Linked DNA regions of Homo sapiens: region 1 is linked to region 2. Evidence: fine-mapped expression QTL. A gene starts in region 2. The other region holds a variant in brackets. All regions are shown on one strand. Distances are between the middles of the regions.

Region 1 (3,020 bases), 97 kb after region 2:
GAAAACAAAACCACACTGAGTTACCATTTCATGTTCACTAGGATGACTGCAGTCAAAAAGATGGAAAATTACAAGTGCTGTTGAGGATGTGAAACAATTGGAAGCTTCATACACTACTGGTTGGAAAGTAAAATGGTGCAGTCACTTTGGGAAAGTTTGGCAGTTCTTCAAATGGTTAAACGTAGAGCTACTATATGGCCTAGCAATTCCCCTTACAGGCATATGCCCAAGATAATTGAAAATATATGTTCAGGGCTACCCTCTTTGGGTCCCCTCCCTTTGTATGGGAGCTCTGTTTTCACTCTATTAAGTCTTGCTTCTGCAGTCTTCTGGTCCATATTTGTTACGGCTCCAGCTGAGCTTTTGCTCGCCGTCCACCCCTGTTGTTTGCCGCTGTCGCAGACCCGCCGCTGACTTCCATCCCTCCGGATCCAGCAGGGTGTCTGCTGTGCTCCTGATCCAGCGAGGCGCCCATTGCCACTCCTGATCGGACTGAAGGCTTGCCATTGTTCCTGCACGGCTAAGAGCCTGGGTTCGTCCTAATCGAGCTGAACACTAGTCACTGGGTTCCACGGTTCTCTTCCGTGACCCACGGCTTCTAATAGAGCTATAACACTCACCGCATGGCCCAAGATTCCATTCCTTGGAATCCGTGAGGCCAAGAACCCCAGGTCAGAGAACACGAGGCTTGCCACCGTCTTGGAAGCAGCCTGCCACTATCGGGAGCTCTGGGAGTAAGGACCCCCAGTAACATTTGGTGACCACGAAGGGATCTCCAAAGCAATGGGAAACGTTCCCCCCAAGGCAGAAACGCCCCTGAGATGTATTCTGGAGAATTGGGACCAACTGGACTCTCACATGCTAAGAAATAAACGACTTATATTCTTCTGCAGTACCACCTGGCCACGATATCCTCTTCAAGGGGGAGAAACCTGGCCTCCTGAGGGAAGTATAAATTATAACACTAGCTTACAGCTACACCTCTTTTGTAGAAAAGAAGGCATAAGGAGTGAAGTGCCATATGTACAAACTTTCTTTTCATTAAGAGACAACTCACAATTATGTAAAAAGTGTGATTTATGCCCTACGGGAAGCCCTCAGAGTCTACCTCCCTACCCCAGCGTCCCCTCGACTCCTTCCCCAACTAATAAGGACCCCCCTTCAACCCAAACTGTCCAAAAGGAGATAGACAAAGGGGTAAACAATGAACCACAGAGTGCAATTTTCCCCGATTATGCCCACTCCAAGCAGTGGGAGGA[G/C]AATTCGGCCCAGCCAGAGTGCGTGTACCTTCTTCTCTCTCAGACTTAAAGCAAATTAAAATAGACCTAGGTAAATTCTTAGATAACCCTGATGGCTATGTTGAGGTTTTACAAGGGTTAGGACAGTCCTTTGATCTGACATGGAGAGATACAATGTTACTGCTAAATCAGACACTAGCTCCAAATGAGAGAAGTGCTGCCATAACTGCAGCCTGAGAGTTTGGCGATCTCTGGTATCTCAGTCAGGTCAATGATAGGGTGACAACAGAGGAAAGAGAAAAATTCCCCACAGGCCAGCAGTCAGTTCCCAGTGTAGACCCTCAGTGGGACACAGAATCAGGATATGGAGATTGGTGCCGCAGACATTTGCTAACCTGCGTATTAGAAGGACTAAGGAAAACTAGGAAGAAGCCTATGAATTATTGGCAATGATGTCCACTGTAACACAGGGAAAGGAAGAAAATCCTACCGCCTTTCTGGTGAGACTAAGGGAGGCATTGAGGAAGCATACCTCTCTGTCACCTGATTATATTGAAGGCCAACTAATCTTAGAGGATAAGTTTATCACTCAGTCAGCTGCAGACATTAGAAAGAAACTTCAAAAGTCTGCCTTAGGCCCGGAGCAAAACTTAGAAAACCTATTGAACTTGGCAACCTCGGTTTTTTATAATAGAGATCAGGAGGAGCAGGTGGAATGGGACAAATGGGATTTAAAAAAAGGCCATTGCTTTAGTCATGGCCCTCAGGCAAGCAGACTTTGGAGGCTCTGGAAAAGGGAAAAGCTGGGCAAATCGAATGCCTAATAGGGCTTGCTTTCAGTGCGGTCTACAAGGACACTTTAAAAAAGATTGTCCAAATAGAAATAAGCCACCCCCTCGTCCATGCCCCTTATGTCAAGGGAATGACTGGAAGGCCCACTGCCCCAGGGGATGAAGGTCCTCTGAGTCAGAAGCCACTAGCCAGATGATCCAGCAGCAGGACTGAGGGTGCCCGGGGCAAGTGCCAGCCCATGCCATCACCCTCACAGAGCCCCAGGTGTGCTTGACCATTGAGGGCCAGGAGGTTAACTGTCTCCTGGACACTGGCGTGGCCTTCTCAGTCTTACTCTTCTGTCCTGGACAACTGTCCTCCAGATCTGTCACTATCTGAGGGGTCCTAGGACAGCCAGTCACTAGATACTTCTCCCAGCCACTAAGTTGTGACTGGAGAACTTTACTCTTTTCACATGCTTTTCTAATTATGCCTGAAATTGCCACACCCTTGTTAGGGAGAGACATTCTAGCAAAAACAGGGGCCATTATACACCTGAACATAGGAGAAGGAACACCCGTTTGTTGTCCCCTGCTTGAAGTCTGGGTAACAGAAGGACAATATGGACGAGCAAAGAATGCCCGTCCTGTTCGAGTTAAACTAAAGGATTCTGCCTCCTTTCCCTACCAAAGGCAGTACCCCCTTAGACCCGAGGCCCAACAAGGACTCCAAAAAATTGTTAAGGACCTAAAAGCCCAAGGCCTAGTAAAACCGTGCAGTAGCCCCTGCAATACTACAATTTTAGGAGTACAGAAACCCAATGGACAGTGGAGGTTAGTGCAAGATTTCGGGATTATCAATGAGGCCATTGTCCATCTACACCCAGCTGTACCTAACCCTTATACTCTGCTTTCCCAAATACCAGAGGAAGCAGAGTGGTTTACAGTCCTGGACCTTAAGGATGCCTTTTTCTGTATCCCTGTACATCCTGACTCTCAATTCTTGTTTGCC
Region 2 (2,752 bases):
CAGTAGCTGGTATTAGCTTTCTTAGTAATTTAATTTTCAGTTAGAGAAAGCCAGACCACTTTGACCTTTCGAAGTCCTTTGGTATAGATACATATACATTTAAAAAGATAAATGAAAACAAGCCATTGATTAATAATGCCCATCGCAGAAGCTGTAATTATAAAATTAAGATTTTTTGATGTCACTGTTGATGTTGAATATAGTTAATAGAAAAGCAAAAATAAAAAATAAAAAAGGTCTAATTTTGAGGCACTCTTTTGTCTCTGCTCAGGTCCACCGTCTTCCTTGCTAATGTTTACGTTTATTATTAATTTTTCCATTTATTTATTTACTTTTACCACAATTAGGGGACAGAGAATGAAACCTAAACTTTTTATTGCTTCTGTAAAGAGTGAATATAAATGTAAGATTTTTTTTTTTTGAGACGGAGTTTTGCTCTTGTTGCCCAGGCTGCAGTTCAGTGGCGCAATCTCGGCTCACTGCAACCTCTGCCTCCCAGGTTCAAGCAATTCTGCTGTCTCAGCCTCCCAAGTAGCTGGGATTACAGGCCCGCGCCACCTCTCCTGGCTAATTTTTTGTATTTAGTAGAGACGGAGTTTCACCATGTAGGTCAGGCTGGTCTCGAACTCCTGACCTCAGGTGATCCACCCGCTTCGGCCTCCCAAATTGCTGGGATTACAGGCGTTGAGCCCCGGCGCCCGGCCACCAAATCCTTTTTCAAAACAACTCCCTTCTTTGACACAGTGCAATTTAAATAAGTATACAATTAACAAAGTACGTTTTTCTTGTTCAAAACCATCACTGAACAGTTTGCAACAGTAGGGTATGAATGCATACAATCTCGATGGTCTTTACACCTTCAGAGGCTATTCGGACTTAAGGAAACGTGCATTTACAAGTGTAAATGTAAAAGCTCAGTAGTTGCCTTGTAAAGTGCTTTTCGGGGTTGTGGGGTTGGGGGTGGTAGGAGTAGGTGGTGCCTCAAATTATACTAGCGAATACCAACATTCCCAAACATCTAGCCCTCTGCCTAAACTCACCCGGTTGCGGTCTGTCATTTTCGCTCTTCTTTGTTAATTTTTTCGGCAAAGTCAGTTTTCATGCAGCAGATGGCAAGAAAGCCGGTGAACGCCTAGGGACGTGGCCTTTTAACCGCACCCAATTAAAGCAGCAAACAGAAGATGAATAGCTGGGTGGATCAGTATGTGTAAACCTATCCGTTTAATCCGGGGAGCTGTTTTCCCGGGTGAAACCACGAATTCTTTCTGGAGGTTGCAACTCGTAACCATAGCAACTGGAAGTGGTCGCCGGCTCCCGGATGTTGTGGGGATCTGCGGCCGCCTGGCCCAGCTTCCCGCAGCCGCCCGGCGGCGGCCTGCGCTCCACTTCGGGAGTGGTAGTTCTTCTCTTCACCGCTGCCGGGCAGGAGGCGCAGGCGGGACTACGCGTCACGGCATGCACTGCGGCGCCCAGCCGGTCACCGCCTGCCGGCTGCAGACGCCTGCGAGCAGGTTGTTTTTATAAGAGGCGTCATTGGCGCCCGAGCTGTGACCGCCGCCACTGGGGCAGCCAGCACAATCGGGCGGAGGTGGCGCTGCCCCTTCAGGTACTGTACTAGGCGGGCTTAGACCCCGGGAGGGGGTTTGTGCCGACTGTCTGAGTCCCTGGCCGACACGCTCGGCTCAGTAGAGGAGCAGTGGCGGGGTCCGCCTCCTAGGCTGGGGCTGCTCGGGCGGGGACTTGACGCCTGGTGTCAGCGGCCGCACGGGCGACCTCCTCGGGCCGTGCGCGAGTGCACAGCTCCGGAGGCCCGAGCCGACCCTGGGGCGTCCGGTCCGGTGGTCTTGCAGCCTCCAAACCCCGAGTGCTATACCGAACTGCGCGCCAAGGGTGGGAGAGCTGACGGCCTGGGCCACCCTTCTTCCTTCACTGGGCAGGCTTTGAGGTGCTTGTCGGTCTGGACTGATGAAAATCCATATGGTAAGATGTTATGTGCGTCACCCTGCCGGGTTTAATGCCAGCCTGTCTTTTGATGACATTTGAGCCCCCGTGATGTCAGGAATAGAAAGATTAAATATTAAATAATGCCCGGAGACTTCCGCTAGCACGCCAGCCTGATGATGATCAAATACCTCTCCATATCCTTCTCCAGTTCCAGTGGCCTCCTTTAGCTTTGGTCTCCCTAATCGATTTGTCCTCATTAGCAGCTGTCCCATGCAGTGCCTTGTACGCGTTGTTTATGTTTAGCACTATTGGGAGCGCCAAGTAAGGTATTTTATTGAGTGGTGAAGTTTGCACTGTTCTGCTCTACTTTTATTGAAAAACACAGTTGGGCATTCTTGTAGTTAGAATAGCTAACTATATAGTACTATGAATTTTAGATTTGTCTCCTCCAATCTACAGGATAGTGCTTGAAATATCGCTATTACTGCATCGTATCTTTTAAGATTAGAATCATATTGGGTCCCACACGTCTCAGGGGATATTTATCACACACATCCAGTGTGAATGGTTTACTTTTATTTTCTGAGTTCAGGTCATATAGCAGAAGATGGAGATGGTGAGGGTATTATTTTAATTCATATTTTTTTTTTTTTTGAGAGAGGGTTTCGCTCTTGTTGCCCAGGCTGGAGTGCAGTGGCGCGATCTCGGCTCACTGCAACCTCTGCCTTCCAGTTTCAAACGATTCTCCTGCCTCAGCCTCCCGAGTATCTGGGATTACAGGCGCCCGCCACCACGCCCAGCTAAATTT

Evidence for each region.
Region 1: its variant is fine-mapped to the expression of CCPG1 in whole blood (TOPMed, PIP above 0.99).

Annotation. Positions count from the first base shown.
Region 1 is chr15:55,309,610-55,312,629 of GRCh38, reverse strand. It overlaps a transcript of RAB27A not described here. Among named protein-coding and RNA genes, the nearest start is that of PIGBOS1, 8.0 kb to the left of the region's middle. The variant G/C (reference allele first, on the strand shown) is at 1,260.
Region 2 is chr15:55,407,075-55,409,826 of GRCh38, reverse strand. CCPG1 (cell cycle progression 1) reads left to right here and starts at 1,468. Exons shown (of 9, transcript NM_001204450.2): 1 at 1,468-1,606. It overlaps PIERCE2 (piercer of microtubule wall 2), which reads right to left and starts at 1,332. Exons shown (of 2, transcript NM_001198784.2): 1 at 1,041-1,332. The coding sequence starts at 1,058. All of the region lies in intron 8 of DNAAF4-CCPG1 (DNAAF4-CCPG1 readthrough (NMD candidate)), which reads left to right. RefSeq lists enhancers at 1,089-1,288, 1,339-1,608, 1,969-2,248.